Linked DNA regions of Homo sapiens: regions 2 and 3 are each linked to region 1. Evidence: fine-mapped expression QTL. A gene starts in region 1. Each other region holds a variant in brackets. All regions are shown on one strand. Distances are between the middles of the regions. Region 1 holds the start of CMTM3 (CKLF like MARVEL transmembrane domain containing 3). Region 2 overlaps TK2 (thymidine kinase 2). Region 3 has its middle 24 kb from the start of BEAN1-AS1.

The links. PIP is the estimated chance that this variant, and not a neighbour inherited with it, causes the effect.
Region 2: its variant is the best candidate, but not a certain one, in a credible set for the expression of CMTM3 in whole blood (TOPMed, PIP 0.68).
Region 3: its variant is the best candidate, but not a certain one, in a credible set for the expression of CMTM3 in whole blood (INTERVAL, PIP 0.88).

Annotation. Positions count from the first base shown.
Region 1 is chr16:66,602,928-66,607,166 of GRCh38, forward strand. It overlaps CMTM3 (CKLF like MARVEL transmembrane domain containing 3), which reads left to right and starts at 1,777. Exons shown (of 5, transcript NM_181553.4): 1 at 1,777-2,025. The coding sequence starts at 1,879. It also overlaps a transcript of CMTM4 not described here. RefSeq lists silencers at 1,662-2,501, 2,562-2,781.
Region 2 is chr16:66,519,766-66,524,004 of GRCh38, forward strand. The region is part of intron 6 of TK2 (thymidine kinase 2); the gene reads right to left. Among named protein-coding and RNA genes, the nearest start is that of TK2, 28 kb to the right of the region's middle. RefSeq lists enhancers at 263-763, 2,668-2,737, 4,137-4,239. The variant T/C (reference allele first, on the strand shown) is at 2,077.
Region 3 is chr16:66,498,392-66,502,630 of GRCh38, forward strand. No RefSeq gene overlaps it. Among named protein-coding and RNA genes, the nearest start is that of BEAN1-AS1, 24 kb to the left of the region's middle. The variant G/A (reference allele first, on the strand shown) is at 1,839.

The DNA of each region.
Region 1 (4,239 bases):
TATTGCAAACCATATATAATAGTATACTTAATCCACATGTAAATGTTATAAACATTCCACAACAAACAAAGTAGCATTTAACATCAAGAGAAAAAGAGATAGGAGAAAGGGTTAAGGAACCAGTTCCAGGGTAAGGAAGAAGACAAAAGGAATCCTGGTCTGGGCTTGAGGGTCTTGCAGAGTCTTTGAGGGGCAGAGCCTTGGGAGGCAGATGCAGAGTTCTTATGAACGGCAGTGGGATGGTTGTCAGTTAAGGCTGCTGGGCTGCTGTTTTGTAGTCACAGAGTGCTCTGGTGAGAAATGGTAGAGGAACAGTGTGCTTCTTTGTGTCCTTATGTGGTTGGACGCAGTCTTTATTTATTTTTTTTTTTATTTTTTGAGACAGAGTCTTGCTCTGTCGCCCAGGCTGGGGTGCAGTGGTGTGATTTTGGCTCACTGCAACCTATGCCTCCCGGGTTCAAGCGATTCTTGTGCCTCAGCCTCCTGAGTAGCTGAGATTATAGGCACGGTGCCACCACGCCCAGCTAATTTTTGTATTTTTAGTAGACACGGGGTTTCACTATATTGGCCAGGCTGGTCTCGAACTCCTGACCTCGTGATCCACCCACCTCAGCCTCCCAACGTGCTGGGATTACAGGCATGAGCCACAGCGCCTGACCTTCTATTTTTTATTAAACAAAACATCTTGCCCTTGTTGGCAAAGCACCCTATGAAATATAAAATGAAGTCTTTTTCTAAGATGGAGTTAGTTATGTCAAGGGTGCGCAGTACTGTGCCATAAGCTCTCCCCCGGCTGCCCAGAGAGAAAACCTAAGGGCCTCTTAAAGACACCATCACAGCAGTTCAGCGGGGAGCAGGCAGGAATGGTTTCGGATCTAGTGGTGGTGAGAAGTAGACAGAGATCAGAGAAAGTTATAGGAGGTGAAAGTGGGAGGACCTTGGTTACAGACTGCCGGTGAAGAGGGACAAGGACAACCCGCAGGTCTCCGCTAGTCAGGTGGAAGGAAAGGAGGGGGCAGTGCCCTTCGCAGAGGCACAGGAAGCTGGGTCTTGATCACGCTGAACTCCAGACGCTCTCTAGATGTGCACGCATGTGCGTGTGGAGTGTGTGTGTGTGTGTGTGTGAGAGAGAGAGATGTGTTGGGGTGGGGGGACTGCAGGTCAGGAAGTCCTGCAGATGTGCGTGCCTGTGTGTGTTTGCGCGCGCGCGCGCGTGTGTGTGTGTCTGTGTGTGTGCCTGGAGCTGCGCTTGCAGGTCTGAGAGTCCTCTGAGAATGGGTTGGGGGAGGCGGGTGCAGGACCGAGGCCTGGAACAGCCAACAAAGAGGCCCTGGAGGAGGGTGGGGCTGGCCGGGGACAGGAGGGGTGGCCAAGAAAGTCGCAAGAAAACTCCGGCCCCCAAGAAAAAGAGAGGGCATGGGTTGCGGAGCCGACATCACGGCCGGGGTCTTTGCTGTTTAGACGCCTGGGTTCCCGGATCCCAGACACGCGCACGGGCAGGAAGTTAGACCGGAGACAGCGAGTATAGACAGCCCTTCTGGATAGGGGCAGACGGGTGGGAGCTCCGAAGGGGTGCCGGGGCGGTGATCGGGAGGTCTCCAGCGGCCCGAACCAGGGTGAAGAAGAAGGTGGAGTCTGCGGAGGCCCCAGGCCGGGGAGGGGGCGGGTCGGGCCCAGCATCCCCCGCAGCCGGGGTCCGAGGGGGAGGGGCGGGCTGGAGGAGCGGGTGGGGGCGGGGCGGGGCGTGGCGGCGGGGGATGCGCCCCTGCGCGAGCCAGTGTCGCCTGCCCTCCTTCCGCACAGCCCGGGTTTCCGCTTCCCTCCGGGCGCGAGAAGAGGGGAGCCAGGCCGAGCCCCGGCCCTACCGCCGCCGCCGCCATGTGGCCCCCAGACCCCGACCCCGACCCGGACCCCGAGCCTGCCGGCGGCTCCCGTCCCGGCCCCGCGGTCCCCGGGCTCCGCGCCCTGCTGCCGGCGCGGGCTTTCCTCTGCTCTCTCAAAGGCCGCCTCCTGCTGGCCGAGTCGGTGAGTGCGGCGGGACCCTCGGCCGCCCCGCTAGGACTGCGCGGCTCCTTTCGGAGGAGGACGTCGGGGCGCGGGTGGGGTCCGGGGGCGGCCGCCGTGCTCCGATACCCCCTCTCCGCGCCGCCTCGGCCGACTTCTCTCGGGCGCCTGGCGAAGTTGGGTCGAGGTCCCCAAACTTTGGACGGCGGGGCGGGGCCCGAGCCCAGGCCATCCGCGGCGCTGTCCCCGCGAGTCCAGAGCTGGGGGCCGTGGGAAGTGGGTGGGGCCCGGGGATGTGGGTCCTGCTGTGTGAGCCAGGCGCCCCCGCCCTCTCTGGGCCCCGGGGACTCGGGCAACTCGGACCTCCGGGACTCCCGGGCCGCAGCGGGGTCCGCTTTCCTGCGAGCGGGTAGTGCGGGCCGGGGCCTCGACCTGCGGGGCCGAGCCGGCGGGGGGCCGTGCGGAGCGGGAGGGATCCCCCACCCCCGGGACTGGGTGAGGCGGCCCCGCGGTGACTTCATCGCCCTCCTCCCCTCCGCGGCCGGGCTCCTTCCTACTCCGCCCTCGCCCCCACCCCGGCCGGTGGGGCTTCTTTGTCCTCTGGACACCGGAGGCGCCCGCACTGTCCGCTGTGGGGTAGGGGTGGCGCTGGGCCGTTGGGGATGGGGAGGGAGAGGCCGGGCCGGAGACCGGGGGAGGCGGGAGGAGAGAGCGGCGCACGGCGGCGGCCACTTGTTGCTTAGATCCCAGGAACTTGGCGCTTCCTGCCCTTGTCCCCACTTTACAGATGAGAGCGCTCAGGCGCCTGATTTGACAGGTGGCTCAACTGAGGGGCCCAGTGAGAGCGGCCAGGAGGGTGGGGGCAGGAGGAAGGGGGATTCTGCTCCGGGACCTCTCCCTGGTCACTCAGGGCAGAGGGCAGAAGGTGGTCCTGCAGCCTCTCCCACGGTCAGCCCAGAGGCCACCTGCCCAACGCCCAAGTGAGACACCAATGCCACACTCCGAGCCCACACTCCCAGCCCCACCCTGGAGACCACTGGGAGCCACTTGAGGGGAGAAGCCTCGAATCCACCGTCCCCAGAGTGGCTTGAACCCCCCCATCCCCACCCAAGACCACCTCATAAGAGGGAGGCATATGTCCAGCAGGAGCATAGAGGCCACCCTGGGCCCAGCAGATGTCAGGAATCCAGGTCAGGGAGGATAAGGAAGGGTGAACGGTCAGCACTCAGGGTTCACAGGAGCCGCTGAGGGCACTCCTGCCTCCCTAGTCCCCTCACTCCCACCCCCAGGCCAAGCAAGTGCAGAGGCTGAGATGGACAGAAACAGAGAGAGGAAGTGGCCCCAGAAATCGCGGGATGAAAAAACAGGAATTGAGAGGGGAATCCCCAGAATTAGGCTTTGGGGTGCAGGCATAGGAGACAGGAAGGGGAGGGCCAGAGCTGGGTCAGTCCCATGGAAGGCCTTCCTGGGAGGCCCCAGCAGCCTCCCAGCCCGTCTCTATGCCTTAGTCTATCTTTCCAAAGGGGGCTCAGCTGCACCCAAGGCCATGTGCAGAGCAAATGGGGGTGCTCTGGGGACCCCCTGGGATCCCTGCAGTTCATTTGTCTGAAGCAGCCACAGTGCTTCCTGTGGGGCATCTGGGTGTCCCCATGGGGACTCCTGCACCCACTAGAAACTACTCAGCCATAGACATGTTCAAACGCAGCCACAGTGACAGAAACCAGGGACAGATGGCCTCCCCAACACCCACAGGGCCAAGTTGCTTAAGAACTCTACCTGGGCCGGGCGTGGTGGCTCATGCCTGTAATCCCAACACTTTAGGAGGCCGAGGTGGGTGGATCACCTGAGGTCAGGAATTCGAGACCAGCCTGGCCAGCATGGTGAAACCCTGTCTCTACTAAAAATAAAAAAATTAGCTGGGTTTGGTGGCGGGCGCCTGTAATCCCAGCTACTCGGGAAGGCTGAGGCAGGAGAATCACTTGAACCCCGGAGGTGGAGGTTGCAGTGAACTGAGATCGTGCCACTGCACTCCAGCCTGGGAGACGGAGCAAGACTCCATCTCTGGGGCGGAGGTAAGATAACTCTATCTGGGGGGTCAGCCAGCCCTGGGTTCAAATTCTAGTAGCCTCTGATTAGCCATGTGACAGAGTCTTCTCATCTGTCAAGTGGGGCTGTGCTCATGGGTGGATGTGAGGGTCAGAGGAGATGCCCGTGAGCCTCAGGGTACCAGGCACT
Region 2 (4,239 bases), 83 kb before region 1:
GTTCGGCAAGACTGGCCATGGGGGAGTGGCCGTACCTGAGCCATGTGCAATGGGAGGCTCTCAGTGGGGAGGGGGCAGGGAGGGGCTGACTCCAGTCCCACGAGGGGATGAGCATGGAAGGAAGTAAGAGGCTGGAAGAGTGAGGCAGGCACTCTGGGAGGCCAAGGGCACAAGTAGCCCTGTCTTGGGGCCCTAACAGCAAGGCATGGCACCAACTGGAGAGGGACATTCTCCCCTAGTCTCTGAGACCACCCCCATGTCCTCAGAAGAGAAGAGTATTTGACAGAGGAGCGGGAGAGTGGACGGAGAACAGCAGCGGGGCCTGAGCAGACTGCAGCACAGAGGCCAGGGCAGACCAACCTGTGGGACGGCCAGGACTCCCAGAAAACCTGGAGAAGCTGCGTGGGAGGCTGGAGGAGTGGGAAGGAAATCCTACAGCATTGCAGAGGGGACTCCCAGGCAACAAAACTCAGGCACTACAAGTTCAGGTGACAACTTTGTGTCCACAGGCTGCCTCCCTGCCTCCTCTCCGCTTACCTCCTTAAAAGTAGCCCATTCTTTATTCAGGGTCCATCCACAGACCCAAGGGCTTCAGGGAAACCTCACCCCACCCCAAGCTTCCAAGCTTTAGGGTAGGCACAATCGGTCTAAAGGAAGTCGTCTCCCCTAGTTCCAGCAATGCGTTCAGGAAGCCAAGCTAAGTCAATCAGTGCAGGGCCTCCCCCAGCCAGGGGCCCAATTTGGATTAGGCAGGCGTGAGGGAGGTTTGCAGGGACTTACAGAAAAGATACTTCCGCACGCTTAGGGAAGAGCCACTAGCAAGACACCTGCCCTTACTCCAACCAGCGAGTGAGAAGCCCAATGCTGCCACGACTACATTGTCACCCTGAGAGAACTGCATGAGGACACGAACAGGATGCACAGTAGCAAAATGTAGAGAAACCAGGCCAGAGGCACCAAATAAGCCATCTGTTGGGAGTTGATGACACCTCATTGTTCAGGCTACCCTGAGTTGGGTTTCAGTTAGTTCAGCTCCGAATATTTGATGTTCAAGAAACCAAACCACTATCTCTTATTTTCCTTTTCTGGAAAAAGAAGACTGAGAACAAAATTGACTCTAAGAAAATGAGGATGTGCAATGAGGAAGCTGCTGATTAGCTTCTCGCCTACTCCAGCAAACTCATGGCTTGAGGGCACAGAAGAGGTGGCACCAAAGGGGTGGGGCCAGTTAGCAGCAACTGGGGAGAAGCTGAGCTGCCCATGGGACAGTCTCCCAAGTGTCCAAGGCTGGACTAGCCACCGGAGTACCTCATGCGTCTGCACAGCTCGAGGGAGACTCTGTCCAATCCCAGAGCTGGGAGGGTGCCCACAGATATGATCATGGAACTGAACCACAGCTCAGAACAAATGAAGCAGTGTTAACTAAAACCAAACCAACCACCACTGCAAAACAGTCACAGTACACGGGGGTCTGCACATGGAGACATGGGGAGGGGGTCACACCTGTGGGGGACTCTGGGACTGACAGACTCCGGTGGCTCTGCCCCTGCCACAGCTCCCCTGGGAATCGGCTCCAGGTAGTCACAGGGGCCTCCCACTCCCACCCCCATCACAGCCAAACAAAAGGCTTCCCCCACAGGGTTGGTGCAGACTGAGGGGCAGCCTCTCCCTTCCCAATGCTCTTGGAAGGGGTCCTTGGTCGGGTGGCCTCCCATGGGCAGGGTCAGTAGGCCAGACCTATTGAAAACCCTTCCATGACTAGAACCATGTGCCAGAAGAGGCTGGGGGATCCAGGAGGACTGAATGACCAGTGTCTGAGCTGAGTGAGGAAACAGAAGCCTGATCTCCATGACTCCGAGGGACATGGGGCACAGTGGGCGCTGCTCTAACTGTATTTCCTCCTAGGAACTCTGCCCAGCTCCTCCTGTGTCTGTCTCAAGCATGGGGCTCCCCACACCACCGACAAGACAAGCCACTGCCTTTATTTCTACAGAATGCACGGAGAGCAATACCAAGCAAATCCAAGCTTGGCAAATCCAAGCACACAACTCAACAGTGGGCATGGGGGTCTCACCC[T/C]TGCCCTGACCCCAAGGGGGCAAAACCAAGGTCTTGATCCACATGAATCCTGCTGTTACATCAGTACAATTTCTTGCATCCTTCCCTGAGGCCAAGAGAGCCCCCCAGTCTGTGCGGAATGGAATGGAAGAGCTCCCTTGTATACGTTATTTCCTTTTGTTTTCACAAGACCTTGTGAGGCTGGCTTCAGTCCCAGTTTATAGAAGAAACCTGAGGATCAGAGAAGTGAAGGCCAACTCTGTCTGAGCAGGGGTCCAAGCCTGGCTCTCCCTACCCCCAAACCCAAATGCTCTCCATTGCACCACCCGCCCACCCCAGTCTGTCAGCTGACTCGGATCAAGTCCAGTGTCTCTCTAGCCTGAGCTCCAGGAAGGCCACAGCTCTTAGGCGCATGACCCACACCAGGAGGTTTCAGTCTAGACAGGAGCTGGGAAGAACTTAAGCCCCTGGGCCAATCAGCAGGGGAGGAGGCCCAGCCTGTGGTTCCAAACACCAGGTCTTACTCAGTGTCCCCAACCACAAGCCACAGGTGAGTCAGCATGCCACTTCCCGAGCTGGGTCCCACTCCACGCCCTCACTTCTGTTCTTAGAAAAGGACGACCAGGCAATCTTGTAAAACCTTTGCTTCCCATTACTCGGCCCACACAGTCACCTGTGTGGCCTCTTTAGCTACATGAATCTTGCTCACCACCTTCAGCTTTTCATGCCAGCCAGCTGCCTGCCCCTTACACGTTCCTGTCTTTGGCCAGACGCAATGGCTAACGCCTGTAATCCCAGCACTTTGGCAGGCTGAGGCAGGCAGATCACCTGAGGTCGGGAGTTCGAGACTAGCCTGACCACCATGGAGAAACCCCATCTATACTAAAAATACAAAATTAGCCGGGCGTTGTGGCACATGACTAATCCCAGCTACTCGGGAGGCTGAGGCAGGAGAATCGCTTGAACCCGGGAGGTGGAGGCTGCAGTGAGCCGAGATTGCACCACTGCACTCCAGCCTGGGCAATAACAGCAAAACTCCGTCTCAAAAAAAAGAAAAAGAAGTTCCCGTCTTTAAGGATACTGTGTAACTGGAATCTTCCTCTCCAGCAATTAACACAGCCCTCTCGAATCCCTGGTGGCATAACTGCAGTTACATTCTGCACACCCCAACCTCGCCAGGGTAGACAGTGCCAGAAGAGGTGGGTCTTTTCCCTGGCGAGCTCTTCATTTGTTCACAGCCCAAAGAGCAAGAACACCCTTCAAGAAATTTTACTTCGAGGAGATGCAGGATTCCAATATGTGGGCTTTTCTGGGGACCTGAGCCTGCCATATAGCCTTCTGTCTAGGCCCCCACAGATCCTGAACCAAGGTTGCAAGAGCTTCTGAGAGGGAGAAAAAGATCAACCCAAGCACTGAAGGGGCAATGGTAATGTGCCCTCCCACCTTGTGAAGGGCTCCCCATCATGGCATTTTGGGAAGCCTTTTCCTAGAGCATCCCAGGAAATGAGGAAACACGAGCTCCCAGGCAGGAGCTGACGCCCCACATGCCACCGTGTGGTTCCCAGTACCTGGCTGAACTCCCTGCAGGTGGGAACCAAGACACCTTATTCTAGGTATGGGCAAAGGACCCAGCCAAAGTCAGTTCTATGCTACATTTTGCATAGGTAGTGACAATGACAGTAATCTGCATTTTGAAGGAGCCGAAACCTCTAAAAACATCTACTTTGGCCAGGCATGGTGGCTCACGCCTATAATCCCAACACTTTGGGAGGCTGAGGCAGGCAGATCACTTGAGGTCAGGAGTTCGAGACCGGCCTGGCCAACATGGTAAAACCCTGTCTCTACTAAAAATACAAAAATGAGCCAGGCGTGGTGGTGGGCGCCTGTAATCCCAGCTACTCGGGAGGCTGAGGCAGGAGAATTGCTTGAATCTGGGAAGCAGAGGTTGCAGTGAGCTGAGATCGCCTGAGTGATCCAGCCTGAGCAACAGAGCAAGATTCTGTCTCAAAATCAAAAAAACAAAAAACAAAAAACAAAAAAACCCCACATCTACTTTCTCAGTAATACTTCGTTGTGGATGACCGCTCCATCGAGGGCAGCTGGAGTTGTCCGGAGAGTGGCCAAGCTCTAGTCTTCCTTCCCTTTATCCCTTCTGTGGCTCTGGCTAAAAATACTTTTTACTTT
Region 3 (4,239 bases), 100 kb before region 1:
GAGCTAACTATCCTAAATATATATGCACCCAATACAGGAGCACCCAGATTCATAAAGCAAGTCCTTAGAGACCTACAAAGAGACTTAGACTCCCACACAATAATAATGGGAGACTTTAACAACCCACTGTCAACATTAGACAGATCAACGAAACAGAAAGTTAACAAGGATATCCAGGAATTGAACTCAGCTCTGCACCAAGCGGACCTAATAGACATCTACAGAACTCTCCACCCCAAATCAACAGAATATAATTCTTTGCAGCACCACACCGCACCTATTCCAAAATTGACCACATACTTGGAAGTAAAGCACTCCTCAGCAAATGTAAAAGAACAGAAATGATAACAAACTGTCTCTCAGACCACAGTGCAATCAAACTAGAACTCAGCATTAAGAAACTAACTCAAAACCGCTCAACTACATGGAAACTGAACAACCTGCTCCTGAATGACTGCTGGGTACACAACGAAATGAAGGCAGAAATAAAGATGTTCTTTGAAACCAACGAGAACAAAGACACAACATACCAGAATCTCTGGGACACATTCAAAGCAGTCTGTAGGGGGAAATTTATAGCACTAAATGCCCACAAGAGAAAGCAGGAAAGATCTAAAATTGACACCCTAACATCACAATTAAAAGAACTAGAGAAGCAAGAGCAAACACATTCAAAAGCTAGCAGAAGGCAAGAAATAACTAAGATCACAGCAGAACTGAAGGAGATAGAGACACAAAAAACCTTTCAAAAAAATCAATGAATCCAGGAGCTAGATTTTTGAAAAGAACAACAAAATTCATAGACTGCTAGCAAGATTAATAAAGAAGAAAAGAGAGAAGAATCAAATAGATGCAACAAAAAATGATAAAGGGGATTATCACCACCGATCCCACAGAAATACAAACTACCATCAGAGAATACTATAAACACCTCTACGCAAATAAACTAGAAAATCTAGAAGAAATGGATAAATTCCTCGACACATACACCATCCCAAGACTAAACCAGGAAGAAGTTGAATCCCTGAATAGACCAATAATAGGCTCTGAAATTGAGGCAATAATTAATAGTTTACCAACCAAAAAAAGTCAAGGACCAGATGGATTCACAGCCGAATTCTACCAGAGGTACAAGGAGGAGCTGGTACCATTCCTTCTGAAACTATTCCAATCAATAGAAAAAGAGGGAATCCTCCCTAACTCATTTTGTGAGGCCAGCATCATCCTGATACCAAAGCCTGGCAGAGACACAACAAAAAAAGAGAATTTTAGGCCAATATCCCTGATGAACATCGATGCAAAAATCCTCAATAAAATACTGGCAAACTGAATCCAGCAGCACATCAAAAAGCTTATCCGCCACGATCAAGTGGGCTTCATCCCTGGGATGCAAGGTTGGTTCAACATACACAAATCAATAAACGTAATCCAGCATATAAACAGAACCAAAGACAAAAACCATATGATTATCTCAATAGATGCAGAAAAGGCCTTTGACAAAATTCAACAACTCTTCATGCTAAAAACTCTCAATAAATTAGGTATTGATGGGACATATCTCAAAATAATAAGAGCTATCTATGACAAACCCACAGCCAATATCATACTGAATGGGCAAAAACTGGAAGCATTCCCTTTGAAAACTGGCACAAGACAGGGATGCCCTCTCTCACCACTCCTATTCAACATAGTGTTGGAAGCTCTGGCCAGGGCAATCAGGCAGGAGAAGGAAATAAAGGGTATTCAATTAGGAAAAGAGGAAGTCAAATTGTTCCTGTTTGCAGATGACATGATTGTATTTGTAGAAAACCCCATTGTCTCAGCCCAAAATCTCCTTA[G/A]GCTGATAGGCAACTTCAGCAAAGTCTCAGGATGCAAAGTCTCAGGATACAAAATCAATGTGCAAAAATCACAAGCATTCTTATACACCAATAATAGACAGAGAGCCAAATCATGAGTGAACTCCCATTCACAATTGCTTCAAAGAGAATAAAATACCTAGGAATCCAACTTACAAGGGACGTGAAGGACTTCTTCAAGGAGAACTACAAACCACTGCTCAATGAAATAAAAGAGGATAAAACAAATGGAAGAACATTCCATGCTCATGGGTAGGAAGAATCAATATCATGAAAATGGCCATACTGCCCAAGGTAATTTATAGATTCAATGCCATCCCCATCAAGCTACCAATGACTTTCTTCACAGAATTGGAAAAAACTACTTTAAAGTTCATATGGAACCAAAAAAGAGCCCACATTGCCAAGTCAATCCTAAGCCAAAAGAACAAAGCTGGAGGCATCACGCTACCTGACTTCAAACTATACTACAAGGCTACAGTAACCAAAACAGCATGGTACTGGTACCAAAACAGAGATATAGACCAACGGAACAGAGCAGAGCCCTCAGAAATATTGCCGCATATCTATAACCATCTGATCTTTGACAAACCTGATAAAAACAGGAAATGGGGAAAGGATTCCCTATTTAATAAATGGTGCTGGGAAAACTGGCTAGCCATATGTAGAAAGCTGAAACTGGATCCCTTCCTTACACCTTATACAAAAATTAATTCAAGATGGATTAAAGACTTAAATGTTAGACCTAAAACCATAAAAACACTAGAAGAAAACCTAGGCAATACCATTCAGGACATAGGCATGGGCAAGGACTTCATGTCTAAAACACCAAAAGCAATGGCAACCAAAGCCAAAATTGACAAACGGGATCTCATTAAACTAAAGAGCTTCTGCACAGCAAAAGAAACTACCATCAGAGTGAACAGACAACCTACAGAATGGGAGAAAATTTTTGCAATCTACTTATCTGACAAAGGGCTAATATCCAGAATCTACAATGAACTCAAACAAATTTACAAGAAAAAAAACAAACAACCCCATCAAAAAGTGGGCAAAGGATATAATAGACACTTCTCGAAAGAAGACATTTATGCAGCCAAAAGACACATGAAAAAAATGCTCATCATCACTGGCCATCAGAGAGATGCAAATCAAAACCACAATGAGATACCATCTCACACCAGTTAGAATGGTGATCATTAAAAAGTCAGGAAACAACAGGTGCTGGAGAGGATGTGGAGAAATAGGAACACTTTTACACTGTTGGTGGGACTGTAAACAAGTTCAACCGCTGTGGTAGTCAGTGTGGCGATTCCTCAGGGATCTAGAACTAGAAATACCATTTGACCCAGCAATCCCATTACTGGATATATACCCAAAGGATTATAAATCATGCTGCTATAAAGACACATGCACATGTATGTTTATTGCAGCATTATTCACAATAGCAAAGACTTGGAACCAAGCCAAATGTCCAACAATGATAGACTGGATTAAGAAAATGTGGCACATACACACCATGGAACACTATGCAGCCATAAAAAATGACGAGTTCATGTCCTTTGTAGGGACATGGATGAAGCCGGAAACCATCATTCTCAGCAAACTATCGCAAGGACAAAAAACCAAACACCACATGTTCTCACTCATAGGTGGGAACTGAACAATGAGAACACATGGACACAGGAACGGGAACATCACACACTGGGGCCTGTTGTGGGGTGGGGGGACGGGGGAAGGATAGCATTGGGAGATATACCTAATGTTAAATGACGAGTTAATGGGTGCAGGACACCAAGATGGCATATGTATACATATGTAACTAACCTGCACGTTGTGCACATGTACCCTAAAACTTAAAGTATAATTTAAAAAAAAAATTAAAATTAGCCAGCCATGTAGTCCCAGCTACTCAGGAGGCTGAGATGGGAGGACTGATTGAGCCCAGGAGCTCAAGGCTGCAGTGAGCCGTGATTACACCACTGCACTCCAGCCTGGGTGACAGAGTGAGACCCTGTCTCTTAAAATAAATAAATGGAAAAAAAAAAGAACAGGCTGATCTGGAGGCAGAGCAGGTCAGCAATCTCAGGAGGATGAGGCAAGAGGTTGCGTCAGCTTGGAACCATGACAGCCACTCCAAGGCATATCCCCCAGGGCACCTGACCTGCAGCAAAGGAACCTGGGAGAGCAACTTAGGCCAAGGATTCCAGGGGCAGGAAAGGCGAGCTAATTATTTTTTTTTTATTCATTCTTTTCTGACCATTAACATAATAAGCATGCTTATTCCAAACCAAAACAGAACTTTTGCTCTCTCCACTAAGCCTGCCGCTCCCGCATTCCCCATCTGGGTAAATGAGTCCACCATCCACTCACTCACTCCAAT